Linked DNA regions of Homo sapiens: all the other regions are linked to region 5. Evidence: fine-mapped expression QTL. A gene starts in region 5. Each other region holds a variant in brackets. All regions are shown on one strand. Distances are from middle to middle. Region 1 has its middle 27 kb from the start of GALNT14. Region 2 overlaps GALNT14 (polypeptide N-acetylgalactosaminyltransferase 14). Region 3 overlaps XDH (xanthine dehydrogenase). Region 4 overlaps GALNT14 (polypeptide N-acetylgalactosaminyltransferase 14). Region 5 holds the start of GALNT14 (polypeptide N-acetylgalactosaminyltransferase 14). Region 6 overlaps GALNT14 (polypeptide N-acetylgalactosaminyltransferase 14). Region 7 overlaps GALNT14 (polypeptide N-acetylgalactosaminyltransferase 14).

What was found. PIP is the estimated chance that this variant, and not a neighbour inherited with it, causes the effect.
Region 1: its variant is fine-mapped to the expression of GALNT14 in whole blood (TOPMed, PIP above 0.99).
Region 2: its variant is fine-mapped to the expression of GALNT14 in subcutaneous fat (GTEx, PIP above 0.99). The same link has a PIP of 0.9 or more in macrophages.
Region 3: its variant is fine-mapped to the expression of GALNT14 in fibroblasts (GTEx, PIP above 0.99).
Region 4: its variant is fine-mapped to the expression of GALNT14 in whole blood (TOPMed, PIP above 0.99).
Region 6: its variant is fine-mapped to the expression of GALNT14 in whole blood (TOPMed, PIP above 0.99).
Region 7: its variant is fine-mapped to the expression of GALNT14 in spinal cord (GTEx, PIP above 0.99).

The regions. Positions count from the first base shown.
Region 1 is chr2:31,163,218-31,167,282 of GRCh38, reverse strand. No RefSeq gene overlaps it. Among named protein-coding and RNA genes, the nearest start is that of GALNT14, 27 kb to the right of the region's middle. The variant G/A (reference allele first, on the strand shown) is at 1,969.
Region 2 is chr2:31,002,896-31,006,960 of GRCh38, reverse strand. The region is part of intron 1 of GALNT14 (polypeptide N-acetylgalactosaminyltransferase 14); the gene reads left to right. Among named protein-coding and RNA genes, the nearest start is that of GALNT14, 130 kb to the left of the region's middle. The variant C/T (reference allele first, on the strand shown) is at 1,613.
Region 3 is chr2:31,331,999-31,336,063 of GRCh38, reverse strand. XDH (xanthine dehydrogenase) reads left to right here. Exons shown (of 36, transcript NM_000379.4): 36 at 56-1,743. The coding sequence ends at 106. Among named protein-coding and RNA genes, the nearest start is that of XDH, 81 kb to the left of the region's middle. The variant A/G (reference allele first, on the strand shown) is at 1,583.
Region 4 is chr2:31,011,433-31,015,497 of GRCh38, reverse strand. The region is part of intron 1 of GALNT14 (polypeptide N-acetylgalactosaminyltransferase 14); the gene reads left to right. Among named protein-coding and RNA genes, the nearest start is that of GALNT14, 120 kb to the left of the region's middle. The variant G/T (reference allele first, on the strand shown) is at 2,065.
Region 5 is chr2:31,136,894-31,140,958 of GRCh38, reverse strand. It overlaps GALNT14 (polypeptide N-acetylgalactosaminyltransferase 14), which reads left to right and starts at 2,519. Exons shown (of 15, transcript NM_024572.4): 1 at 2,519-3,001. The coding sequence starts at 2,873.
Region 6 is chr2:31,105,127-31,109,191 of GRCh38, reverse strand. The region is part of intron 1 of GALNT14 (polypeptide N-acetylgalactosaminyltransferase 14); the gene reads left to right. Among named protein-coding and RNA genes, the nearest start is that of GALNT14, 31 kb to the left of the region's middle. RefSeq lists an enhancer at 1,134-1,635. The variant AG/G (reference allele first, on the strand shown) is at 2,415.
Region 7 is chr2:31,064,793-31,068,857 of GRCh38, reverse strand. The region is part of intron 1 of GALNT14 (polypeptide N-acetylgalactosaminyltransferase 14); the gene reads left to right. Among named protein-coding and RNA genes, the nearest start is that of GALNT14, 72 kb to the left of the region's middle. The variant C/T (reference allele first, on the strand shown) is at 2,135.

The DNA.
Region 1 (4,065 bases), 26 kb before region 5:
TAAGCTACATCTGTGGCCAGTCGTACTTGTCCCATGTCTCTCTGATGGGATTGGGCCCCAGGCACCATCTGTCTTTTGTGCCCCTTGCTCAGACCTCAGCTCTGGTATTTGTAATCACACCATGAGCAGGAAGTGCTGGTGGAGTTCAGGACATGTAAGCATGGCATGACTCAGGGTGACATATGTTTTCCTTCTGTCCTCTCTTACAATGTTCTAAGTGTGTTGTCCCACCCTGTCCCTCTCCCCTTGCTTCTTGCTGTATGTTTTAAATTGACCTATCACCTATGTGATCTCAGCCCCTTTGGTCTCTGAGCCCATCTGTTTGGTCACCAGAACAGCTAGTTGGTAGTAGACATGGAGGATACCATTATTGCAAGGTCACTTCCCCCCATGACACTTGGGGCCAGAACCTGGGAGCTGGAGCTCAGGGCAGTAGAGCTGTTTACTTCCAATTGTCTGGCTTGGCTTCTGAGATGTGAGTGTTGTGTCTATAGGTGTGTGAGGGTGCAGGGGGAGGGAGTCCCTGCTGGTTCCTCTGATAAGGCCTATTAGTCCCCCTTCCCACCAGCCCTCATCACAGTGGACCATCCCTGAGAGAGAACGCTGAGCAATGCCTACGACCACATGCCAAGGACAGCTTCCCAGTGACCCTGGATTTCCCTCCCTAGTCCTAAAAGGACAGAAAGTGAAGTAATTTTAGCAACCACCTGGCAGACCCTCATGCCCTCCTGGCCAGCCTGACCTATGTTCCAAGAACATCACCCTCCTGTAGCTCCTCCAAATGTCATCCATGAGAAGCCACCTGTTAGAGTCCAGCCTCAGTCACTTATTGGCTGTGTGACTTAAGCAGGTCGCCTAAACATTTTGTGCCTTGGTTTCTTCATTAGTATTAATGACATTTAGCCAGCCTTCAGTAACAGCAGACATGCATTGAACAACTTCAAGCACAGATAAGACAAGTAGTCCTTTATTTTTTTATTTGTGTACTTTTTTCTTTAAAAAATATAGGCACAGAGGCACTGAGCTAGATCCTAGCATAGAGATGAAAATTCAGTTCCTGTCTTTAATGAGACGGCAGTCTGGTTGCTCAGTTCATGGTGTGAGGAATACACCTGGGGTGCTCAGATCAACCTCAGAGTCCTGGAAGAGTTCCCAGAGGATGTGGTGCTGGACCTGAAAGCTTAGCCGTACCCAGGGAAAGGAGGATGCTCTAGAGAGGAGGAGCAGCATGGGAAAGGGACAGAGCATTACACCAGAACTCATCAGGAGAGTAATAAGTGGTTGTAAGACAAGTAGTTGTAACAGGACATAGGGCATTTTGGAGAAATCGAGCTGGTAGTTTAGCAAAAGAAATGTTGGCCCAAGTAGAAATGGGAAGAAGTTCAGAGAATGTATTAATAAGTGACCTACTCTAGTTGCAGTGACAGGTCCTCATGACCTACTCTTCCTGGGCTTTCTCTGGTTTCTTAGAACCCCAGAAGGCCCTGGGAGGTTTCTTTCCAATGAAGTCTGCCATCAATCCCCATCCTCATGGCTGCACCATCCCACCTCATGCCATCAGAGACCCAGATGAAGCCCAGGTTGAGAGTGTGGTGGGGAGAGGGGCAGCTTGCAGTGTCGAGGCCGGCCAAGTTATCTCACTCCAGCCATTCAACCTCAGGAAGGACCTGAGAGCAGTAGGGGAAGAAAGAAGAAGCTTAGCCAATTTCAGAGCTACTATTCAGCTTTGGTTTTATCCCACGCAGCTGGGAAGGCATTTTTTTCCCCATTCATCTTGTGAGAAGAAATGGGCACAAGAGATACATCCCAAGAAGCAAATGGGGTCTTCGGTGTATGAGACAAGGTGTTCTCCACCCAGGTTCACACTATGCAAGAACAGGCCCTTGGTCAGGGGCTTTAAAAATCTCTTTTTTGCTACCACAGAATCTTAATGAACATTCAGGGCACTGCTGGACACAGGGCAGGGAC[G/A]GCCTGGAGGCTCCTTGTAGAGGAAACCATCTTATTGGTAGATGGTAGATCTCCTTGTAGAGGAAACCATCTTACCAACCTGGTCCAGTCAGAAGAGAGAAACCACACAGGAAGTTGAACAAGGAAGTTTAATATAAAGACTTTAAAATTACACGGAGCATTGGAGTAATTGAGGGATTAGATAGTAAAATGTAAGGGGGATACTAAACAATACAATAGCAGATATGGGGCATCCACTACCCTACAGCTGAGATAGAGTGACCAGGAAAGAGGTCTCTGCCCTTTACTTAGAGCTGATCCAGACTTGACTGCAGATGGCAGGGGTGTGGCTCATGGAATGGCAGGGAAGCCACTGTGGTGCTATGCTGCAGAACTTGCTGGAAATCTGTCCCCTAGGTGCTGAGGATAGCTGTTCCTGGGAGGGTTCTCAACAGAGGCACTCTGTTACAAAATTGCTCACTTTATGTGTAATTTCCTCACAACAAAATATTGAAAAGACATGTATTCAGGGGTTGAGATTTAATAAAAGTAATCATTTTTACTGCATCATTGAAGACATTCTGAAATGAAATTGGCTTTTTTTTTTTTTTTTTTGCTGCAAGTGAGTGGTGGTAGAGAACACAATGACTAGTATGGTGTGGTTCCACTGCCTCGATTTGCACACCTTCAGCATAAATGCCAACAAACAAGAATGGAAAATAACAGCTTAGTACTATTACTAAAATGGTTTTGACCTCACAGGCCCCCAAAAGGATCCTGGAATATCAGGTCCAAAAACCACCTGTGGAGAACTGCTAAGCTAAATGACTTGCCCAAGCTCCTAGACTGGGAAGTGATGGAGTCAGAACTCAAACATGGGACTCCTAGCTTCGAACCGTGTGATTTTTCCACAAAACCTGTTGGGGTCCTCAATAAATCACATATCTCTTCCTGTGAGTGTGTGGTGGTAAAGAACACTTAATAAGTTGAGAAATAAAACTAAAGTTCAAATACTATTTTTATTACTGATAGAACCAAGTTAGTGATATTGCATTAGGTCTGTTAACCAAGTGGGCATGTGGGCTTGATAATTCCAAACCCCATCAGCCATGCAGCCCAGCCTGGAAAGAGGTCCTGGGGCAGAGGGAGGAGCATTCCCCCAGAGAGGCAGAGCAGAATAGGGGCTCTCTGTGGCTGCTGCCTCCTAGGAGATAGGAAGACGGAATTAGGCATGGCCAGTTATTCCTAAATCAGTTAAGTCTCTCCACCTTCATAATACAGGGGAGAAAGCTCAGCCATAGAACAGGATTCTCAGATGCTTACTGCACTCATGTTTCATATTTGAAATGTTTTCCCTCCATCTCACATTTGTATCCTCATCCTGCCCAGCCAAATGGTCTCAGTAGCCAATTTCCAGTCATTTCTTGGATGTGCTCAGCATCTCTCCTCTTGCCTTTGCAACTTTCTACAAAATAGGTTAAATGCACTCAGATGCTTTTTTAGACAAAGCATATTGGGAGTATAGAAATAACCCCACCCTTATTAAGAAACAGTGGGGAGGTGGGGAAGAGAAGAAGTCTAGTATCTGATTGAGCCTCTGAGGGGCCATATTGTGATGGGGACTTCACAGCTCAAGGCGCAGGTGTTCACAGATGTCCAGAGCAGGGCACCCAGAAGTGACCAGCCTCTGGAAAACTGGGTCCCCACTGGTCCTGTTCATGTCCTTGTAATGTATCAATCAATCGTCAATGAAGGATGCCCCTTTAAAATGACCAGATATTTATGTCTGCCCTCCAAGAAGGGCCATTCCTGGGTACCTGGAAAAGCAAACACATTGTTAGATGGCTAAACAGAGTTAAGGACCCAGGAGTGAGACAAGCCTGATCCCCTGCAGAACAGTGATGAAATATCTGTGCTGCCAGATGTACACAGCCTTCCTCCCCTGGCCAGCCCTCCACAAGCACAATGGGCTCTGCTTTCGAAGACTCCATAGTGACCAGCTGTCAGCTCCTTTCATCCATCTGCTTGTGCTTGTCATGACATCACCTTCTTCATTTTAACACATCGCCCTTTCATGGCAGTCCACTGTGTCCGGGTTTACACATCATTTTATGTTGA
Region 2 (4,065 bases), 130 kb after region 5:
AGAGAAGACAGAAAATGTGCTAAGCTCTGGGCCCTTGCTGTACATACTATCTGGGGAGATCTATCCTCCCCCTAGCAGGCGTAGAAGAGAGGGGAACAAATTCTGCTCAGCTGAAAGCTGGAAGCTTCTTGCTAATGTCACCTTTGGGGATTGAGTGGCAGGGCTTAGGGGCACTTGACTCTGAAACTGTCTTCCTAGCCATATTCCAGTTTAGCACCTTTGGGCACGTGGATTAAGGAAGGGGGTTCCAGAATAACCTTGGCAGAAAATGTACAACTGTGCTTCCTGCCATGCCTCCTCCTTCATCCTTCCCAGGTCTATCTCCAGACAGGCACTGGTTTTGGAAGCCTCACTCTATGAATGATCCCCTATCATGGCAGGGACTTTGCAAGGTTGTGCATGGAATCTGCGTGCCTGGGTTTCATCCCAGCACCTCCACTGACTTGCTGTGTGACCTTGGCCAAGTCACGTTAGCACCATGAAACTCGGTTTCCTCTTCAGTAAAATGGGATTAATAGAAGCACCTGCCTTGGGTTTGTTCTGAGTATAGAACGAGGGACATTCTTAGGATAGAGCCTGGTGTGTAGTAAACGCTACACCACTATTAGTTGCAGTAGTTGTCGTTGTCATTATTCTGGGTGATTGTATCTAGTGTGAGAAGTAGTCACTTTTTAAAGCCAGTTCTTTCGCCTGGCTTCCCACAGCTTCCCATCTTTATTTCTCTCAAGGTTATCTTTGCCTGGCAAGAACCTAGAGGGAGATTTGAGGAAGCTGCAAACCATGCTAAACACATTCCTCGTGAGTGTGACTGTTGGACCGGCCATTCCAGCCCATGGAGCCAAAGTCCTGGGAGGCATGGAGAAGTCCCTTCGGGACTAAGTTCAGACGAGGAGAAGGGACCAGAAGTCAAGCAGGAAGCTCTGAAGTCCAGGTTCCTCGGAGTATGGGGTCTCAGGCAGGTCCAGGCTTCTAATCTCACCCAAGTCTCTCTCCAGAATCACCCTGCACAGCTTCTGTGCTGGCTCCAGCCCCCACTCTCCACGTGCATAAAAAGCAAGTTAGCACAAAGCTCAATTTCTAGCCTTCTAAGCTGATAATAACCTTATGTATTACGCTTCTTAAAATAGTTTTCTTGTCTTATCATTTGCATGGCACTGTGCTCAAACTCGTGTGAGATGGAGCTTTGGGTAGAAAACACCTGCTGAGTCCCAGGAAGCATTCACATTGATAATGACCAATTCTCACAGACGGACAGTGAGGTGAGGCACCCGGTCATCTGTGGATGCTGTCAGAGACCCCATTTCTGCCACAGGGAAGGGAGAAGCAGCTAAACTTAAATTGACTGACTGTAAATTGCGTTTTCCCTCCATTAGCATTCAGTCACCAAAAGAAATAATAGTAACCACAGCTATGTTGTAATGATAATATGTTGTGTATGCATTATGTTTTACCAAGCAATTTTTCATGTCTCATCTCACTTCTGAAGCCTAATTCGGGCTATGAAGCTGGGTGAGGGTGAAGATTAGTATTGTCCTTGGGAGGAGGAGGAAACTGACCACGAGGTTCTGAAACTGACCAGAAAGGATATGTTTAGCTGAGCCAAGCTCAGGAC[C/T]CAGCTTTCTGGAATTAGAGGAGTCATCCCTGGGGCTGCGCTTCCCTTTTTAGCCCATCTCCACTCCCCACCCCCACACACACAACACAGAAGCTCTTGGGGCTGCATTTCTGTCCAGCTAAAATTGGGTTGAAAACAACAAAGGATCCCTTGAAGGAGAAAAATCACAAATGCATAATGTTTACTATGATCACTTTTCCATTGTTTGATTCTTCCCTTCTTTTCCGTTCTTTACCCTTTTCCTTGTATTCCCTTAGTGTCCTAGGGGTCACAATTTGGTGGCCAGCAGGCCAATGTCAGCCCATGGGCATGTTTTGTTTTGCCCAAGAGCAGGTTTAAAGCAGTGTAACTAGGCAGGTATTGTGCGGCACCTACAAGCCATCCACTCTCGCTCACATTTCTCAGTGACTCCAGGTCTGCTCATTCATGACCCCTGCTAGATACCTTGGTTCAGAGGGCCTCTTGAAAATTGCTTTTCCCTGTAGCTATTTCTTATGGCTAGAGAGCTTTCTGATGGTGCCTTAAGATATGTTCCAGTCCTTTGCAGTGAGCTAAGGAGGGGAGAGAAGCCTGGCTTTTGGAGGGAGAGCTGCTCTGTCCCTGATAAATCCAAATCTTATTTTTAGGGTTATTTTCCTCCTAGTGGTTTTCAGTGGGGTGGGCATCTGACTCGGCCCCTCCCTGTCCTGTTGGAGGCTGCTCTGGCCACATTGTGGGGCCACCCTGGGAGGATTTGGCCTCCTTTCTCTGATATTGCTGTCTCTGAGAGATGGCTGCAGCCTCACCCTTGCAGACCTGCCCTCTGTCTGATGAGTTGACCCTGCATCCAAGATGGCTCAACTGTGCACACCAGAGACAGCATGTTTCAGCATCCAGCTCTATCCAGCTCCATCCAGCTGAAGCTGCCCTCTCTGAGTCACTTCCAGCTTTGCTCTACCTACATCCAATCCCTCCCCTTGGACTCTCCTGGGTACTGGTTCCTGTTCTCAGTGCCTGTTCTCTTCCAGTATTGGCCTCCTGGTTATAGGCAAATTCACCCTCCTGTGCTTCCACCCAGTCCACCAAATCCTTTTTTTCCTGAGTCCCCTGTGGATACCTGGCTCCCTGCCTCCTAGATCACCTGCTCCCTGGGTACCAGAGCTGGAGGACACAGACTCTTCTCCTGTTCCAGTGACCAGCTTGCCGCTCTGGTCTCTGAACACAAAGAGAAGGGGATGCAGAAATAAAGCGTGTGGGTAGGACCAGCTCTCTCAGTCCTCATGTCCACCGGCAATTGGGATGTGTTCTTCAGACAAGTGACTAGCAATCCAGGATGCCCATCGACATAAGGGAGTTTTGGGTTCAGTCTTTGGTGGTGGAATTTACAGGGTGTTGATAAGAAGGAAGCAGATACATCAGCATTAGAGCTCACGCTTCCTGGCACGTGCCTGGGAGCCAGGCCCGCTTCCCCAGTCATGCTGACTTAGACTTCCCTGGCACCTCCTTCTCGTGCTAATTTGTAAGTAAATTAATCTCCATAGAAGGTCCAAATATGTGAGTTTCTTTTTCTATTCCAGAAACAAAAACCGGGCTTCTGTCCATTCAGTTAATCATATTATGTTTCACTGTTGGAATTTTTAGGCAATTATAATAATTATTGGAACTTTTCTTCTTCCAGAAAGCTGGAAGCTTCCCCCAAAGTTGTAATGCATGTGGAGCGCAATTGAGACATGGGTGGGGAGAGTGTTTATGGGCGAAGTGGTGGGGAGGAGAGAGATGGGCAGTGGTTGCTTTTGTTGTCAGAGACTAAATGAGAGAGAAATCAAATGGAAAAAGACTCCCACACTAAAGAGGGATCCAGGCTTGGCCTGGCTGGCAGACCCTCCGGGGGCTCAGAGATGCCACAGCAGAGCAACTCTTAGCAGACTTATTTTCTAGGCACCTGGCTGTTGAGGGAGGAGGGTGAGGAGGAAAGTGGGGAAAAGGGACAGGAGGAGGTAGAACAGAAAAGTAAACTCATCCCTGCTGAATTATGTGCTACCTCATTTGGTGCGAGAAATTGCCCTTTCTTCCTCTATTATATGTCCATTCTATCTATCAAACTATTTAAGGAGTGCCTTTCATATAATTAATACTAACCATTAAACTACAACATTGAAGGAGCAATTGCTTAATTCTGAGGAAAATTTAAATTTATTACCAGTACCTGAGATAAAAATGAATACTAAAGAGAAGGAGAGAAACCCCCACAGAAGATAAATAGAAAGCCAAGTGGGATATTGACTTGATCCTTCTCCAGTGCAGGGTAATTTGGCTTCTAAAGTGAGTTAGAGCATAATAAATTAAATTTAGATTTCTGCACATCAGTTAAATAACTCCCAAGACAGAATTCCAGTGAGAGGAAGAAGGTGATAATACATGGAGGAAATATTAAAATGAAGATCTTATCTAATAATCCATAATTGATGTGGGGT
Region 3 (4,065 bases), 200 kb before region 5:
GGGAGGAGCATGATCAGCAGACCCTGGCAATGAGAACACTATCATTCCTTCCTAGTGTGTCACTGGTGTCCCAGAAAACTGCAAACCCTGGTCTGTGAGGGTCTAAAGAGAGAGTCCTCAGCAGAGTCTTCTTGTGCTGCCTTTGGGCTTCCATGGAGCAGGAGGAACATACCACAGAACATGGATCTATTAAAGTCACAGAATGACAGACCTGTGATTTGTCAAGATGGGATTTGGAAGACAAGTGAATGCAATGGAAGATTTTGATCAAAAATGTAATTTGTAAACACAATGATAAGCAAATTCAAAACTGTTATGCCTAAATGGTGAATATGCAATTAGGATCATTTTCTGTCTGTTTTAATCATGTATCTGGAATAGGGTCGGGAAGGGTTTGTGCTATTCCCCACTTACTGGACAGCCTGTATAACCTCAAGTTCTGATGGTGTCTGTCCTTTGAAGAGGATTCCCACAAACCTCTAGAAGCTTAAACCGAAGTTACTTTAAATCGTGTGCCTTCCTGTGAAAGCCTGGCCTTCAAACCAATGAACAGCAAAGCATAACCTTGAATCTATACTCAAATTTTGCAATGAGGCAGTGGGGTAAGGTTAAATCCTCTAACCATCTTTGAATCATTGGAAAGAATAAAGAATGAAACAAATTCAAGGTTAATTGGATCTGATTTTGTGAAGCTGCATAAAGCAAGATTACTCTATAATACAAAAATCCAACCAACTCAATTATTGAGCACGTACAATGTTCTAGATTTCTTTCCCTTCCTCTTTGAAGAGAATATTTGTATTCCAAATACTCTTTGAGTATTTACAAAAAAGATTATGTTTAATCTTTACATTTGAAGCCAAAGTAATTTCCACCTAGAAATGATGCTATCAGTCCTGGCATGGTGGCTCACCCCTATAATCCCAGCACTTTGGGAGGCTAAGGCAGGAGAATTGCTTGAGCCCAGCAGTTTGAGACCAGCCTGGGCAACATAGAGAGCTCCTGTCTTTAAAAAAAATTTTTTTAATTAGTTGGTCTTGATAGTGCATGCCTGTAGTCCCAACTACTTGAAAGGCTGAGGTGGAGAGATCATTTGAGCTCAGGAGGTTGAGGCTGCAGTGAGCTATGATTGCGCCACTGCACTCCTGCCTGAGCGACTGAGCAAGATCTTGTCTCTGAAGAAAAAAAAAGAAATAAAAATGCTGCTATCAAAATCAAGCCCAACCAGAGGTAGAAGAGCCAAGAAGCCTGGGTTCTCATCCTAGCTCTGTCTCTTCTGTCTCTATCTTTGTGATCTTGGACTGTCAATTCCCCTTCCTGTGATCCATTTTACTGCAAACATAAGGGTTGCAGTAAAGGGTTGTCTCACGTCTTCTGCTTTAAAAGCCTATAAATATATGACCTGAAAACTCCAGTTACATAAAGGATCTGCAGCTATCTAAGGCTTGGTTTTCTTACTGTCATATGATACCTGGGTCTAATGAACTCTGCTGAGATCACCTCAAGTTTCTGCGGTTGGTAAAGAGAACAAGGGAAGAACAAACATCCCTTTTATTGCTCCAAATGGTGATTTAATCCCTAC[A/G]TGGTGCTGGGTGGACAATGTGTCACTGTCACATGCCTTCACTGTATAAATCCAACCTTCTGCCAGAGAGAATCTGTGGTTCTGGCCATGGAGGGAGGATAGTGGAAATGATATAGTTGGACTGGTGCTTGATGTCACTAATAAATGAAACTGTCAGCTGGTTGGCGTGTGAAAAATGCTTATTAATTATCATCACACCAAATGCTAGTATCTTCAGTATCTTGGCCAGCCTTCATTTCTTGAAAACACACACACACACACACACACACACTTTCTTACAAAAATCCCTCTCCAGAGTATCCTAGATATGCTGGCTGTTGTACAGCATGGTCAAGGTAGAAGAGCTTTAAAAACTAAACGAGTGTTTACACTGAGATCCAGGTCCATTTCAGATGATTTTCTGGGATGTTCTGGGACAGGGCCTGAGACCTGTCACTTGTTTTTAGTGAAGCTCTTGGGGTGAAGCAGTGACACAGAATTCCCTTGTGTGCTTAGGTACCAAGGTGAGAGTAGAGTGGTCATGAAAATCCAACAAGAAAGTGCTTTGTGAACTAGAAATCACTGTGCTATTCAGAGGCATCGTCCGTCTGAGACACCTTGCCTTGCCCTGTTGTCTTAAAGTGCTTCCAGTCTATACAGTGAGATGTCTTGGTCTTTTTTGGTGTTGCACAAGGAATGCAGTCAACACTGCCTGCGGTATCGCCTGGAACCTGCAGAGGGCAGTAGAAGATTGAACAAGGGGCAATATTGTCCAGGTGGCCCAGCAGCATCGCATTTGTTAACCATTAGGTACTGATTTAGGTAGGATCTCTGCATAGACCAGATGTCCTCGGAGGCTTCCCCAAGAGCTGAATTCAAAGCTGACTTAGGGTTTTAGAATGACAAAAGTCTCAAAGGAGCTCTCCAAAGACATGGGTCAGCCGTGGGAGTCTGAGCTCCAGATGAATGGCTAGCAAGGGGAAGGCAATTCTTATTTTCAGAGTATCTGCAACTTGCCAGGTGACAAGGTGAATGCTTTACCTACAGGGTCTCATTTAATCCTCCCAGTGGTTTTACGAGGTAGGTCCTTTAACCCCTATAACCACATGAAGGAGAAGCCCTACCCCTGACCATGCTGAGGGCTTACTCAGAGACATTTACTCCTAAGTGCCCACCACAACCAGCGGGCAGCTCCCTTACAGGCCAGGAAACCTGGTGTGTATTGGGAGTCACCTGCCTGTCAGAGTGGACAGTTGCTAGCCAGGCTCACGGAGGTGGATGGAGGCACCAGGATGCCCACCGTTTCATTTATAGGCAGGCTGAGGATTCTCTTGCTGGCACGGCCAGGGTACTGAGTTGTCATCAGGGCAGCTGATGAGACTCCCCTTACTCCAGAGCTAGGTGGCTGGGAGGCTGGGACAGGAGGGCAGGACAGAGGTTGTAGGAGGAACTCTGGGCAAGGGATAAGGACAGAAATAGTCTTAGCTGATTGATTTATGACTGAGAACATCCCCGAACCCATGGTATTTTTATCTTTTGCGGAGGGGGAGCCTGGAAACCTGTCCATTTGCTGCCTATTTTGGATCGTGGGACAAGATGATTCCTGACATACAGCTTCCTTAAACATGAGGTCACCCTGGTGCCCCCCAGGCCCAGGAGCCTGCCCTTTTGTTTTGTTTCTATCCTGAACTGGGGGAGTACGTGTTCCTAAGGCAGGAGACAGATCCTGTGACAATCTTGTCACCTGAAACAAATCAACCTATTGATGGAAGTGGAAATGTCAGGCACTGCCCAAAGGGATTCTGGCGTCATCTCTGTCCTTGAACTGTCCTGCTCTGGCTTGCACAACCCCCCAGGCCACCTCAGCATCCCAGAACTGGAAAGACCATCAAGTTCAATCTCTCTATTTTAGAGAGGAGAAACATAAGCCCACAGAGAGAAACTGACTCGCTCAGGGTCCTACGGCCCTTTAGTAGCACAGTCAGACTGACAGCAAGGCTGCCTGGTTCCTGGTCCAGGCTTTTTAAAACTTAACCATACACCACTAGTCAACTGAGCCTTCTATTAGGAAACCTGTGGGTCAGGGAGCTGGGGTATATGACAGAAATCTAGTTACACTGAATGGGAAGAAGACAGAGCAAGCTTGAGGCCCAAGATAAACACTGGTGAGGAGGGTAATATGCCTGTATGCCTATATATGCCTATCTGCCTGTGCTCCTGTCACAGGATGCTAAAATGGGATTCTTTCCGCAGCCCCACAGATGGGAAACAAAACAATGAGTGCAAAAACATCCCCTCATTTCAAAGAGAGATGCTGAATCTAAATCATCTGTGCAAGACTTGCGGAGAGATGGCTGGAAACTAATTTTGCCACCATTAACTCCTCATCTACCTCAAGAGTTTAAAAGATTGAAGTACAGAATTTGAGAGATTGGGAAGAGAGGTTTCCTTTGGAGGTAGCAAACCATGCATTCTCCCTGCCAAACAGGAGAGAGTGTGTGTGT
Region 4 (4,065 bases), 130 kb after region 5:
TCATCTCAACTGTTAGCCCATCGATTTTAGTATAGATGGAGGCAGATTTTCCGGACCCTTTTTATAAGGCAGAGTTGCCTTCTTTCTGCAATTCTCCTGTCAGGAGTGGATTTGGGGTGCCCTGCAGAGGCTGTAGTCACTAACTCTCAACTCTCACTGGCAGAGAGTGAGTTCCCATCTCTTTTTTTTTTTTTTTTTTTCCTTTGAGATGGATGTTAGCTCTTGTCACCCAGGCTGGAGTGCAATGGTACGCTCTTGGCTCACTGCAACCTCAGCCTCCCAGGTTCAAGCGATTCTCCTGCCTCAGCCTCCCAAGTAGCTGGGATTACAGGAGTGCACCACTATGCCCAGCTAACGTTTTTGTATTTTTAGTAGAGATGAGGTTTCACCAAGTTGGTCAGGCTGGTCTCAAACTCCTGACCTCAGGTGATCCACCCACCTCAGCCTCCCAAAGTGCTGGGATTACAGGCATGAGCCACGGTGCCCGGCCAAGCTCCTGCCTCTTTAAAGCTAGCGAGTGGTTGATTCTTCAGAGGCCACAGAACTTTAGCCCTTCCCTCCCTCCTTTATGCATTCCCTCACCTGCTAATTTACACTTCTGTCTCATGTTTCCTTCTCCTTCCTCTTCCTTTCTCTGGGGTTCTTGTTGAATTAATTATGGCAGGAAAGACTGGTGTAAGGGTACAACCCACACAGAACTTTGCACTCTATATACATGGTAAACGCAGGGGTGCTTTAGGGATCATTGACTCCTACCCTCTTATTCTACGATGAGGAAATAGGGAGAGTTCAAGTGACTTGCTCAAGGTCACACTGCTAGTGGGTGGCAGATAGATTGGGTCTAGAATCTGACTTGCTGACCTACATGTATCGTGTGTCCCAGCATGCTGCGTTCCTCAGGGCTAGTCATATGGGGACCTGTTCAGGCCTTCAGAAGGGGGCATCCACTGGCAAGCAGCTGGATCCACACTGCTTCTCACCATGCCCCTGCCAGGAGGTGAAGGCTTGCTTTTCCTTCAGTCTTCAGTTTCTCTGCCTCAGTCCTGGGGAAAAGAGTTTGCTCTCTGTGTGGTTGGAAACTGGGGGCCCAATGCCTCTCTGTGGGAGGGGCTTCTCCCTGCAATGAGTTGCAACATTGTGAATTGATACAGCAACCTACTGGAGAGCCCAGAGCCTCACTAGCTATCCAGATCCAGAGCTGATGGGTACCCCCTTGCCTTTTTTGGGGAGGAAGGGGGAAGGGAGATGTTCACTTTTATTCTCATCTTTAGTCAGCTTCTCCTCTTAATTGACATTTACTATGTGCAAGCCACTGCTTTTTACCTACAGTATTTTCATTTAATTCTTAAAACCCTGTGAAATAGGCATTATTCTCCCCATTTTACAGGTGATGGAACTGAGGTTCAAACAGGTTAAGCAGCTTCCTCCAAATCACATAAACAGTAAGCAGTGGAGCCAGTGTCAGAGCATAGGTCTTGAGAAAATTTAGGTTCATCTGTTTTCATTCCTTAAGTGCAGCTTTCATGAAATCTTACAGGGACAGAAACTTAAAGCCATTGTCTGCACAATCGTTATTTTTAGATTGTCAGAGTCTATAACACTTTTGTAGTGTTTCATGACCATTCCCATAGCTGTTTACTTTTAGTTTTGTAATTACATAGATTCAGTGCTCTACTGGTTCTTCTGCTCCATTCTTGGGTTTTTTATTTTGAACCACCTCTTCATTGACTGCATGTGGGAACAAAATTCATATATAAAGCAGAAATGGCATTAACAGAAAGAGCATGGGCCAGACAGACTGGGGTCCAAATTAGAAGTCTGCCATAGTGGATTCTAGTGGCTGCTTCAAAATGGGCTCATAGGTGCTGTCATCCCTGAGCTTGGATGTGGGAATATCACACTCCTGCTGTCCGTACTTGAACGGCACCTCAGCAGGTTAAAATGCTTCTGGTCACATTTGGACTCAGCCCCGTGGGTGTTGCTTCATTATCCGCTGACATGGAAAGCTGCCGCGGGGAAGTTTGAGGTCAGCTGAACATTTCCCCTTCTGTAGGTGACTTGTTG[G/T]TTCTGCCTGGGTGCTTGATGATTTCTTTCTTGCATTTGGAAGTTCGATACCTAAACCAGGAAACATCTTCGTGTCAATCCCTTTGTATCAATTTTTTATGGAATGTGGTGTGCAATTTTGATGTGCAGACTCAGATCTTTATTCATCTCAGGAGGTTTTTATTTAAAAAGATGAAGACTGTTTTGTGTGTTCCATCTGTTTCTCTGCTTCAGGTTCACCAGTTTTCTGATGTTGGATCACCTTTGCTCTTTCTATACATTTTATTCTCTCCTGTAGTTGCTTTAATAATTTAAATCTTTCTCCTCTGAGTCCCAGTGACTTGCCCAAGGTCCCACTGCTCAAGAGTGTCAGAGCCAGGACTGGAACCCTTTAGTTGGTATCAGTAATTAGATTTCCTGCTGTGCCTGCACTGCTTCTTGGAGTTTCAACATGTATTTATTGGTTCTGCAAAAGTGTTTTGTGGTTCTCAGTTTTATCATTCTTTATTCCATTGCTTTATTTAATCATCTAATCCTTTAGCTCTTATTTTATTAAATTCATGCTTTTAAGCTATTCCATAGCATGAAGCACGTTTGGGTAATTTCCTTCCATTTGTTTAGTTGTTTTTATTTAGACTGGGGTTTTTGTTTTGTGTGTGTGGGTGGTGTTGTTTTTGGATTTTTTTTCATACTGTGTTCCATTTTGTTGGTTTGTTTGGTTTTGGTTTTGGCCCCACCCACACAGGGGCATGTTTGCATCATTGCCATGCAGTTCCTTTGCATCTTGCTTGACCTACACACCCTGATTCAGGGCAAGTTCATTCTTAACCCTTTTTTCACCATGTCTGAGCCTGTTCATTTCCTCCACAAGGCATAGTTTGAGGGCTGTGAGTTCTGTGTCTGTCCCCTTGTCTGTAGCCTGAGGGCCTTGGTGGAGTGAGGTGGGAAGGGAGAGCTGCACTGAGGCTGTGAGCAGTTTTTATTACCAACCTCTCAGAGAGAAAAGCCACACTCCTGCCTCCAGGACACACGCTGTTTTGTGGAAGAGACCCAATAAACAGGTAACTATAGGTGCTGCCATAAGAAGAGGGGACACTATTAGGTTGCAGGGACCAGATTTGCTTGCTTCCTTAAAGTCATGGTGGTGGCAGTTTAATGGAAGGATGCCAGTGTGTGGGAACCAGGGTTAAGCCAGACCAAAAGTCCAGGGCAGTACTTGCAGACCACGGCAAAGAACTTGGCCTTTATTCTGTGAGTGGGATCCAACCGTGTCTTAGAAGAGCCATTCCAGCAGCAGTGTGAAAAATTAAATACAGGTCTAAAGACATAAATCCCCAGCGCTTATCTGTTGGTCGGCTCTGCAAAGAGAATGAGGAGATATCTTCTGTACTGGAAACTGTCACCAAGGAGTAGAGAATTTCCTGAGCAGACTGGCGTTCCCCACCCTTCTTTGCCCCTGCCCGTTTCAAACACCTTCAGCTCCTGGGCATCAGCTGAAGAATGCCTAGCTTTTCCCCAGTGCTGTGGATCTCTGGAGATGTGTTTCCCGGCTGAGCGTTATGGCAGCCAGAGCCAGGCGGCACGTCCAGAGAACACATCTCAAGGTTGTTGTTTGAAGTACAAACAGAGCAGGGACCAATTATGGAGTCCCTCTGCACAGCATGCCTCCTGACTGTGCTCGGCATGGGGTGGGCAGAGGCTGGCAGAGCTGAGGAGCCAGCTTTGGCCCCCTGAGGGGTAGCTGGGAGGGAGAAGGGAGAGTATCATAGATTTATTTGCTGCCAGACAGGTCTGCCAGTGTGAGCTCATCTTTCAGAGAGGCGCCCTCTCCTCTTAACAGCCAGGTGCCTCCTGTGGCCCCAGGGTGGCACTGGATCCTAGATCCTGTGAGCAGAATTTTGCATCTATTTCTGGGGAAGAAAAGACCATGGCTTCTATTACACTGAAAAATAGGGCCCTGTCTCCTCAAATAGTTAAGGATGCCTCTGCTATGTAACCCCTATATTTTATAGGTGGGAAAAG
Region 5 (4,065 bases):
CCTGCCACTTCGCCTGGCTATTTTGTTGTTGTTGTTGTTGTTTAGAGACAAGCTCTCGCTATGTTGCCCAGGCTTAAAGCTGGTTATTAAAGCGTTTCAAATATATTCCTGAGCATGGGGGACCCCTGGATAGACTGGGTTCCTGGAGAGACCTACAGAACTAGGCCCCGCATGGACACTCACTTCACTTCCAGATGTTTGAAGTCCCACTTGAAATCTACTTCAGTCCTAATGATATTTACTGGTTTGACAACCCAAACTGATATCTGATATGATCTCTGGATGGATCAGCTAATGACACCTAGCAAAACTGGATTCCCTTGACAGCTTCCATAGGCCCAGGAAATCTTCCTCACTTGAGTAGAGGACAAAATAATGATTTGAGAAGAAAATCATTCCTGGAAGGAAATTCCCACTCTCTGAGACATTGCAGTCCCTGCACGGAGCTGCCTTCACCCCAGGGCCTCAGTTTCCCCATATGCCAAACAGTCAGAATGAGGCACCTCAGCATCTCAGCAGTGTGGTGAGCAGCGTGGTGGTGCTGCACCATCTCAAAAGCTTGGCGGTGTTCTTGTGTAACTGTCTGCCATCTGTTACTCAGAAGCGGCATTACAAAGCGCTGAGCAATGGACTCCTGTGCTGCAGCTTCTGCCTGGAGCCAACAGCAGCTCAGCAGCTTGCCTGGGGGTCCCCTGCAGAGCCTGCAGCAGAACGCTTTGCAGGCCCGAAACTGCAGGTCCCGGGTGAGGCTCCTGAAAGAGGTCCAAGGTGCTTGGGATGCTGCAGAGGTGAGTTCTCTTGCTGCTCCCCCTACCCCTCCCATGATGATCATCTACCTGGGCCTTTGCTGGGACAAAGCATTGGCTGGGGAGCCTACTCCCACCTTTCAGTGTTCAGAGTTCTGATAAAGGCAAATGCTAGATCAACCCTGGGGTTCTGTGTGATGGTCTAAGAGCGCAGGTAGATCTTGAAAGGGCTGGCAACAGTGCTCACCTTTTCTGGGCTGTTTAATTTCAACTGCGGTTCCCAACCCCAAACATCTTATCTACAGTCCAGTCAAGAACTCTCTGAGGTTGAGGCAGGACTTCCCTGTGGCTGAAAGATAAGGTACCAAAAACAGGAGGCTTTGAGTAGACGCCTCCATTTCTCAGTACATGTCTTTGGGGAGACATCTTATTGAAGAAGGAATTCCAGAGCCCTGATTTACAGCTGTCTCACCTGTGCGGAGGTATGGGAGCTTGCCCTACACTGAGCTTTATGGGGAGAGAGGGGCAGGGAGAATGGTGGCTGCCACAGTGGGTGCATCGTTCTCACCTCCCCAAGAAACTCGATGAAGCAAGCAACCCTCCAACAAAAATGGCATGGTTCCCGCTGCCTCTGCTCCCCAGACAGAGCAAGGTTTCCCCACTTTGAGTGGTCAGATAACACCAGCACCTTGCATTCAGCTTTCACCACTACTCATTTGCTTGTCAGAGGAGGTATTTTCCCTCCATTTTACAGATGAGGAATCGAAGACTGGGAGAAGGTAAATGACTTACCCAAGACTCACACAGTGAGTGTGACAGCTAGGTCAGTACTCTCTGGTCAGTGATCTGGCCGTGATTCCAGCCTACTTGAGCCTACATGGGAATTGGAGTTAGAATTTGCTTTGCTTCTAGATCCAAGCGGTTTTAATCTGCAAGTGGGAGGGGGATACAATTCCCAAAGGCCCTTGGGAAAAGGGGCTTTTGAAAGATCACCCTCTGCACCCAGTATCCTCCTGCCCAGGGTCACTTTCCAAGAATCCCAAGTGGTTGTTCCAACTTTGGACCTCTTTTCTTGCAAGCACAAAGCCCTGATGCTTACAGGGAGAGAAAACCTTTATGGGAGATAATTGCGCCTTAATTTTTTAAAGGATATCTTTAAAGTTAAAATTAGACCAGCTCAGCTTTCCTTCCGTTAAGCAGAAAAAGTTACCAGGCACCTGCAGGCAGGCATAGAAACACCCTGGGGAGTTGGCTGACCGCGGCCTTGGCCCTCAGTAGCCAGGCAAGTGAACCGCGGGTTTGGGGCAGCAGCCCTGCCGGCGCCCTGGAATCCCAGCCTTGGCTGTGGTAGGACGAGCACATTGGGGGTGGGACCCCGGCTTCAGCGCCACGTGCAGCCCCCGCGATGAGCGGGAAAGTCCTCCCAGGCACAGCGCCGCCTGGCGAGGGCCGGCCCTTGGGTCCCAGCTGGCAGCTGGGGGTGGCGGGCATCCCGAGTGCACCGCTCCCGCCCCGCCCCGCCTTGCCCCAACCCACGATGGTCTGGGAGCTGCGCCCAGGGCTTGGCGCTGGCGGCCCCGCAACAGCACCGAGCGTTTCGGTCGGCGGGCGGCGGTAGCGCCCCCTCTCAGAGCCCCGCTCACTCCCACCTGGGCTCGCTCCGAGTCGGCCTGTCTGTCGGGCCCGCCCTCCCCGCTCACTCCCTCCGCCCTCGTGCTCCTCCCGGGGTGCTTGGCACAGCCTCGGATTCCTCCCTCTCGCTGCTCGAGTCAGTTTCCCTATCGGCGGCAGCGGGCAAGGCGGCGGCGGCGGCGGCGGCAGCCGCGGTGGCGGCGTGGGGAACATCTCGGCAGCCACCGCGCTTCTCCCGCTGGAGCGGGCGTCCAGCTTGGCTGCCCTCGGTCCTTCCCTGCCACGTTTCGGGTCGCCCTGCACCCCCCACCCAGGCTCGCTTCTCTTCGAAGCGGGAAGGGCGCCTTGCAGGATCCTGCCGCCCCTCCAACCGGATCCTGGGTCTAGAGCTCCCCAGAGCGAGGCGCTCGCCAGGACTCCTGCCCCGCCAACCCTGACCGCCGGGGGGTGCCCCCGGGACGTAGCGCCGCGGAGAGGAAGCGGCAAAGGGGACCATGCGGCGCCTGACTCGTCGGCTGGTTCTGCCAGTCTTCGGGGTGCTCTGGATCACGGTGCTGCTGTTCTTCTGGGTAACCAAGAGGAAGTTGGAGGTGCCGACGGGACCTGAAGTGCAGACCCCTAAGGTAGGCGGCTTGCCGGCGCGCTGGCGCTGAGCGGTGGCTTGCGGGAGGGCGCGCAGCCCGCGTGCCGGGTTTGCGGGCTCCCGGGAAACCAGGGCGAGGGTCTGGGTGCTGCGAGCAGGTAACAGCCGCCGGATGTGGCTACCATGTGATGTTTCTGGATTTTAAAACGCTCGGGGGCATCTCCGGACCCGCGGTGTGCATGAGTGGCAGTGGGTGTGGGTGGTGGGCGCGCGCTCGCCTGCGGAGCGGGGCTCCCAACTTGAGCTGCGCGCGAGGGTCCCGGGGCGGAGGGGGCTCTGCGGACGGGCGGCCCAGGGGCTGGCGGTCTCCGGGCGCTGCCAGAGAGTCGCCGGCGGTCGGGTCGGGCCAGCGCCCGGGCGAAGTGTGGCGGCTGCGCTGACCTCCTTCCCGCAGCTGCCAGGCCCGACCTGGGGAGGCCGGAGGCCGGGTGCGCCGCGCGCGCCTGTGCGTTGCGGGCGAGCGCCTTGCAGCCTCCCGGGCGGCTGCCACCCCTGTTCTCTAACTGTTCCCGACCCTCTCAGCTGCATTGGAAGTTGAATGTGCCCAGAACACCACGAAAGAGCCTGTAAAAACAGACGCCTTGGTATTGGCGGGGAGTTGAGGAAATGGGAATCCAAGTGGCTTTTCCAACTCCTGCTCAGTCAGTTCCTGTGAGGGAGCCAGAAGGTTCCCCCTATAGGCTCACTCTTACCTTCAGATTCAGAGCCCTGTAGGGGGAAAGGGAAAACTTCCCCATGGCTCTCCGAAGGTTCACTGAAAATCAGTTGACAAAAGGCAGATCAATAGGAGAAAAGGCATAATAATTTATTTGATCATAGTTTTTCGTGACATGGTAGCCTTCCGTTTTCTCTTCACAGATTTGGCCCGGGGACACGGAAGGAGGCCTCTGGGGGATTTCCTGGCCAGCCAGGCAGTCTTTATAAACTGGGTCCAGAACAGTCGTCTAGGGGTCTGGGCAAAAGCCTTGGAGGAGCTTATGGTCGGAAATGGGAGACTGAAAAACAGGAAGATGTGGGCGGGAGGTGGCGTCTCACCAGTTAAGT
Region 6 (4,065 bases), 32 kb after region 5:
CTGCATTTGGCCACAGTAACTAACAGCTGCATTCCAGGCCTGGGTGAAGTGGCAGCTGATTCACCAAGCACAAGGCCTCCCTTTATGGTGTTAGGGGTTGGAATCTGGGAATGAGATAACAGCTGTGCTGAGCAAGAGGTTAACCAGAATCCTCACTTGTTGAGGTTAGAAGCCTTTGAGTTGATCAGGTCTACTTGCCCTCTCCGTGGTTGATGTTGAGACTAGGGAGAGGAAGTTACTTTCTCAAGAGTATCAGCTGGTTAATGGCAGAACTTACTTAGAACCTGACTTCTATGCCCATAGTCCAAGCTCTTTTCAGTCTGCCTGTTCCAACCTGTGCTGTGCTTGCCTTTGTAAAATCCAAAGCTCAGTAGGGAGCAGGGAGCTGCCGACAGGAATGCTGGGTGCCTGCTAGACCCTCCAGCCATGACAGCCATCACAGAGCATGCATATGATTAATGCTTATATAGTCCTCATTCCCCAAGGACACTGTTTGTGTGCTACAGAGTCTTCTGAAAAAGGGCATATGATTTCAAAGGATTATTTTATCAAAGGATTGTTTTTATCCTCATTCTTTTGGAAAAACCGAATGCCCAATGCTCCAACCAGTGTTACCTTTCTTGCATTTTGCTCTTGAAGATCTGGGCCTTCCTTGAAGGAGTAGCATAGGGAAGAGAGAACAAACCCTTGTGTTTGCCTTTAAGTCAGCTAGAGATGTTTTCAGCCTGATGGAAAATTAAACTGGGTTAGGTCTTCTAGAGCCCGCCTGTGTAATTGAGCGGGTGACGTGTCCAGCCTCCCTAACTCGGAAAAAACTTACTGTTCACACTTCATTCATACGTTCCTTAGTCCTTGGCAAGCAAATTGCTTTTGAAGAATTTATGTTTCCATCTGCCACTTCTATTAGTAAGGGCAATATTTGTGACTGATGTAGTGATGGTGGAGTCCTGGGGCCCTGGTGATTTGATGTTGTCCATCTGTAGCCTGAAACTTCAGGGTTCATGTGGGGTCAGAGGCAGGAGTCTGGCCTTGGTATTTCCTGAATTACACTGCCTGGCTGGGGAGCCTATGTTTGCTCACAGCCAGGCAGATGGTGCCAAGTAGTGGCGTGTTCTTACTGCTACTTTTGCAGCCAGCCAGAGATATGAGACAGGACAGCTAGCTAATTGGTATTTTGAAGAATCTGCTGTGTGTTTCAGCGTGAGTGTGTGGGTTGCTGGGGAGGTGGTGAGAGTCTGAGGTGTGGGGTAAGATCCTAGTCCTAAAGAATCAGCTGTTTTTTTGGCTGATGGTCTATGGGAGAGCAGCCCTCAAGCTTTAGGGGAAAGTTAAAGGAGAAACAGGACCGAGGTGAAATCATCAGCACCATGGAAAGCACCATGTTGCTTGACGTTTAGGAAACCCTTCATAATGGCAAACAGACTTGGCCTCATGTCTGTGCCTTCCCTACTGTTCTTTGATAAGAAGAAGCTAATGAGAAGGACAGCATTTTTTTCCTTCCCATTCTGCTAATAGAGAGACTGAGTCTCAAGAGGTGACTCGTTTGAGATGTAGTGGTGAATCAGTGGAATAGGCAAATAGGACTTCCTGTATAATGTGGCTGCTGTACAAGACAACCTCTTCTGCTCTTCCTCCTGGATACCATTACAGTCTCCTTGTTGCTGGACACAACAGCAAAGAGAACAATAGAAAACTCCGAAATGCCATTTTCAGTGGAATTAGAGGATAGATACAATCTGTGGAATGTGTAATGTGTGCAAGGGCTGTCCTGAGCAGGAGGGTTTGGGAGAGGCCATGAGGGGGAAGTAGAGGTTTAGGAGAGTACCTGGTGGGCTCAGGAATAGCAGGTGGCAAAGAGTGCCAGAAAAAATACACATCCTGGATATAAGGGGCATCCTGAAGAGGCAAAGCAACATCTCTTATTTGTAATCAACGCAAATAAGGACTAGGGTGAGCAAAACTGAAGAAACGTACCTCCTGGGCCTGCTTTGATTCAGAGAAGCAGAGGAGGTGCATTTATACAAAGGATCATCCAGAAGACACCTAACTGCAAGAAACAATGTTTTTGGCAGCAAATAAAAGAGGCTTCCTTCTTTCCTTCCTTAACATGTTTGTTGAGATATAACATACAGGAAAGCACACAAATATTTTTCAGTTTGATAAACTTTTGTGTAACCACTATTCAGATCAAGGTACAGAATCTTTTCAGCAGCCCAGAAATCTCCATGTGCCTCTTTCTAGTCATTAGCTCTCCTCCACAAAGAAAGCTTACTTCAGTAATGAAAGTCTACCCTGGGCCCTCCTTCCATCCTCAGAACTTCCTGCAAAGAAATGATCCAAGAAAGCCCATCTCATACAACAATAAGTAATAAAAAAGAAAGTAGGATCATTGGTAGATTAGAAGCAATGATATT[AG/G]GGGGAAGAATGTCAGCAAGAGCCACGAAAATTACCCCCAAATAAGGAACATTCCCAGGAAAATAATTTCAGGGAGCAGATGAAAAGTCTAATCAAGTATTTCACAGTGAATTTAAAGAACTCAACAAAGCAATCATTTCTGTGAAGAAAGACCCAACTTGCAGAGGTAAATGCTTGGGAAAGGATGACAAAATGGCAAGAGGTGGTGAAATGTGAGCTGGCAGAACTCAAGGAGGAAATAAAAGAAAAAAAGGCAAATTGGTCTCAGAAATGAAGATGAAGTTGGAAGAATCTCAAGGGAAAATAGACACTGTGGAAAATGCAGTGTGGAACATAGATGAAAGGTGAATAAATGAAACATAAATAAGGGAAGCATTAATAAAGATTAGAGAGAAAATGATTGACATAGAAGACAGGCAGTGGAGAGCCAGCAGAAGCATAATTTTAGTTCTTGAAAGAAAACAAAAAATAACAGACATAAAAAATAGACACACAGAAAACACACACAATGGAACATATTTAAAATATTAGGAAGGCTTTCATGATCTAAAAGAAGACTTAAATCTAAATGTTGAAAGAGCACGAATTTGGGTGTTGGGCAAAATTATCCAGAACAGCTCATACCAAGATTATAGCCTTGGGAAGTTTTAGACACGAAAGATAGGGAATAACCCCTCCCCTCCCCTTGCCTCCTTTTCCTTCTATGAAAGCAGGGTAGAAAAGTGGGTGTGGAGGTGGTGGGCAGGGGACATGGCTAGAATGGTTGGAAGATTGGTTAAGAGAAAGGATAATTTATTGAGCAAGTAAATAAATATAAAGAGGATAATAGGAACCGTGTTTTTTACTGTTTGAAAGGGGATTTCTAAACATGGAAAGAAGGAAGGCTAGAAAAGTCCTAGCATGCTGGATTGGAATTAGAAGTGTCAGTATGTACATATATACATACATTTTTTTCTTAACTCCTTCGTCCGAAAGCAGTGGAACTCCAGTAGCAATGAGTGCATGGTGAGTACTCAGACCTTGGTTTCTTTTTTTCTTTTTCTTTTTTTTTTGAGACAGGGTCTTGTTCTGTCACTCAGACTGGAGTACAGTGGTATGATCTTGGCTCACTGTAACCTCTGCCTCCAGGTTCAAGCGATTCTTTTGCCTCAGCCTCCCAAATAGGTGGGATTACAGGCATGGGCCACCACACCTGGCTAATTTTTGTATTTTTAGTAGAGATGGGGTTTTACCATGTTGGCCAGGCTGGTCTCGAACTCCTGACCTCAAGTGGTCTGGCTGCCTTGGCCTCCCAAAGTGCTGGGATTACAGAGATCTTGGTTTCTAAATAGTGCCCTACACTGCAAGTTACCAGGGGGCCTCAGAGAAGTGGCTAACTTAAGGGATAGGGCAGAAAAAGTATAAAATGAACCTGAAAGACCTTGTCTTGCCAGAAAGTCAGGAAATGCTCAAGAAAAGATGGGGATGTGTCAAAAGGACACAGGAGCTGGCTTGAAGGACTTTCCACTGACCAATTGAGAACAATATGAGCATCAAAGTAAATATCAAATAATCAGAGTATTAGATTACAACCTATTGAATAAAATAGGAATCTGTAAATCCATACTGTTATAAATAAGTGAATGAATAGATACATAGACAAGTAAATAA
Region 7 (4,065 bases), 72 kb after region 5:
CATCTGTGCTGTAGCACGTGCCAGTACTTTCTTCCTTTTTATTAGCAAATATTATTCCATTGTATGGATATGCTGGCTTTGTTTACCCATTCATCAGCTGAGGGACATTTGTTTTGTTTCTGCTTTATTATTAGTCCTCCAGCCTCATCTTAAACACCTAGGGGCCCCATTGTTGCCCTGTCTGCACGGGGCAGTGGTGAGCTGCTCTGTTCAGAAAGGTTATCCCAGAACTGTCTCTAGTGTGGCTTCTTTGCAGGGGGAGGTAGAACAGGAGTAGCTCTGCACTATTCAAAATGCATTTGCTATTAGTTATGGACCTTTCTTTTCTTTTCTTTTTTTTTTTTTTTTTTGAGACGGGGTCTTGCTTTGTCACCCAGCTGGAGTAGAGTGGCGTGATCTCTGGAGTGCAGTGGCGCAATCTGGGCTCACTGCAACCTTCGCCTGCTGGGTTCAAGCTATTCTGGTGCCTCAGCCTCCTGAATAGCTGGGATTACAGGCGTGTACCACCCCACGTGGCTAATTTTTGTATTTTTAGTAGAGACGGGGTTTCGCCATGTTGGCCACGCTGGTCTCAAACTCCTGGCCCCAAGTGATCCACCTGCCTTGGCCTCCCAAAGTGCTGGGATTACAGATGTGAACCATTGCACCCAGCCAATTATGGACCTTTTTAAGTCTACAGCTGCCTTCTCTCAGAAGCAACTGGAACATAGGGGTCTGCTGGTCTGGGCTCCAGGGTTCTGACCAGAGTTTCCAGTTTTGGGAGTGGACTTGGAATCCCTTTCTGGGCAGGGCTTGGGGAAAGGATAAGAGTCTGTCTTGAGGCAGGAGGAAGGGGTGGCTCCTGAGCTTTGTTTCAGGTACAGAGAAAGAGAGTCAAGGCCCACACGAAGGAAGAGCAGGTTCCAGAATGAGGGGCCCAAGTCCCCAGCCTTCCTGCCTGCTCCTCCCCAAGACTGTAGGTCACAGGAGGAGTAACGGTGTGCATGCCCAGACTACCTGACTCGCCTTAGCCACTGAGTGACTTAAGTCCCTGAGCCCTTCTGAGCCTTAATCCTTGTCTGGAAAATGGGGTGAGACATGCCCATTTTATAACATTTTAATGAAAATTAAGTGAGCTGATAGTGGTAGAAGCAGAGCGCTGTATGGAAGTGACAGAGGTTTATTTTTGCTGTGCAAGTTGGCTCCAACTCTTAAGTCCTCCCTCTGCTAGAGGGGTAGGCTCTCCTGTCTTTGAAACTGGGTAAACTGAGGCATGGAAAGCCACCTCAGTCATGGAGCTACCATGGGCAGAGCCAGGGACCCTATTTTACAGCAGACCTAATGTCCTGAGCAGACCCTGCTTTCCTGAGTGAGTGCACCCTCTGCCGGCACAAAACCGGCTCAGAAGAGGATGCTCAAAGTCTGCAAAGTCCGGGGATGTCGTGAAGACAGCCTGAGTCTCTCGGTGACCCCTGTGCCTCTGCACTCAGCACGGCATTCCCAGACTCTCAGGGCTTCTCTAGGGTAACGAGGGGCACTCATCTTCTCTTTGGCCCCCGTGGGGACATGGACCCCTTGCTCCTGGGCTCACTGCATGGCTGGAAGTTCAGAGGTTCCTGCTGCCATTCCTCTCTGCAGCACAGAGCACTGAGACTGACTATGGGAATCTCCTGTTTGGCCCCCTGCCCTTGCCTATGTGACAAATAAGGGGACCAAGGCCAGGGAGGCTGGGTGATGGGGAGAGAGGACCCTGGGCTGGCGGGAGGTAATGGCAGGGCAGATACTATGGTCACTGAGGGATGATGATGCCAAGACTGCTGGGGGAAGGAAAAGGAGACTTTTGGCTGAGGAAGGCTGTCCTGGTCCCACTGTGTCACTGGTGTTACAGAGGGTAGGGAAAGGCTGATGTCCAGGCCCCTGGGCAATGTCGGGGTGAGGTAGGTGGGTGTGCAGCAGCCTGCCCCTTTCCCAGCTTGGCTGGGTCTGGAAATTGCATTTTCCACAGCCTGGGCAGCTTTCTATGTGACTAGATTTCTCCTTTCTGTTTCTGGAGGGCAGCCCAGCTCAGGAGGCTGGCATTGTGTGGCACCGTGGGAGCAGGCTGGCCTTGGTGGGGGGTGGGGGGTGCTCTCAGTGGTGGCAGTGTTGGCCTGGG[C/T]GGGCATCTCTGTGCACCTGCAGCTGAGCCCTGGGGGCTGCCTGCTCTGTGCTCCGGCTCTTCACAGAAACCAATATTTGCAGTCAGGTTTATCTTTCCACTGGGATCCTGGGGATGATGATGTTTTGGCCGAGATGTACTTCGTGTCCAACTCCTGTCAGCATTTCTGAGGGAAGAGTGCTCATTAAAGGCTTCCCTGCACGGCCCCTCCCTGCTCACTGGGCCTGAGTGACATAAATAAGCCCCTTGTTTCTTTTTCACGAGCAAACCCAGACCCTTAAAGATGGCTGGACACCACCCCCCCGCCCCCCGCCCCCGCACCCTTTCGCAGCTGCTGGAGTCTCCGGTGGTGTGGGTGAGTAATGGCCCTGTCGAGGCCCAGCCTCACTCCTCTGGCTTCTGACAGGCACCTGGGTGCTCTACAGCTGGGAGGCTGCTAGGAATTCTTCATCGGTCTCCCTTAATGGTAATGCCCTGGCCTCTGGGGGGGCCTACAACCAGCTCAGCTGAGGAGCCGATGCAAAGCATGGAACAGCAAGCACACTCAGAATGTAACCTCCATGGGATGGAAAGGGGCAACAGGGCCATGAAAAAGGGCCCTGTCATGTATGCCTCCTCCTCTGGGCACCTACAGCTATGATCTCATCTCTCTCACATATCAGCCCTGTAGGCGAGGTAAGGTAAGAATCAGAGAAGTTGAGCCACTTGCTCTAGGTCACACAGGTAGGAAGAGGGTGGGGCGGGGATTGGAATCCTGACTCGAAGGCCTGTACTCTTGTTACTGTGCCCTACTGTCTTCCCATGGGTTAAGTTTTTGGATGGTCTCTGGGGGATACTTAGGTAAGTCACAAGGCATGAATATATTCTGAGCTGGAACTCAAACCCAGGTCTGCCTCTTGACTTCTGCTGGGCTCTTCATTCTCCTCAGACACCCGGCAGGAGGGATTTGTAGGAGGGTTAGTTATGGTCTATCTCAAGGTCAGAGGCTCCCCAGCACGATTTGAATGTGATGCCTTCCATAGTGCTTCAAGTCACACATAACTTTTTCAATACAGTCTGCAAATCTGAGGCCCTGCCGGACCATCATCAAGTTGACCAGGCAGGAAGGTGTGCAGCAGCAGCATCTGCCCATTCCAAGGCCCTCCTCCTGGCCTCTTGCTGGCCCTGACTCCCCTCCCCAGCATGATGCCATCTGCTCATGATCTTGTCTGCTCATCTTTGCCAGGCACTAAGCTGCGTGCTGTACCTGTAGCATTTAATTTGCCTTAATTCTTACCACTTTCCTGAAAGGTATTCTCCCCGTTTTTCTGATGCAGAAAATGGATCTCTGAGAGCGCTACTGACTTGTCCAAGTTCACATCACTGTTCCATCAGTGGAGGGACTGGGACAGACCCACAGGAGTGCTTTTTCCACCATCATCTCAGCCCTCAGTAGAGCAGGAGTGAGGAAGCGGGAGGCTTGAGGCAAGAGTGTGAAACATCAGACATCACCTTTGCCCTCAGGGCTCTGGAGACCTCAAGCATCCACATAATATTTAAAATAATAAAACCAATGAGTAGACAATAAAGGACCAAGATGGATATCTGGGCTGTATATTCTGTGGGTGAACAGAGCTGGGAGGTCTTCTGGGCTGATCTGGAGAGAAGAGACCAGTTTGGGGCCTGCTTCTGGCCACTCCTCCATCTCCCCCACTTTTCATCACCCAAGGAGAAGCTCAGCCAGCCTGAAAGTGTGAGCGCTTCATCTGCCAGCAAGGAGGGAGGAGACAAATCACTTTAAACGTGCGAAGAGTTTTTTTTACCACTCTTTCCCTTCTCATCTTTGTTTATTCTGGAGATCAATACAGACAATGGGAAAGTTATTCCCAGGAGAAGACCTGGCTATGTAGTTTTAAAATATACTTACTCCTTCTTCCCCAGTCCCCTTCACC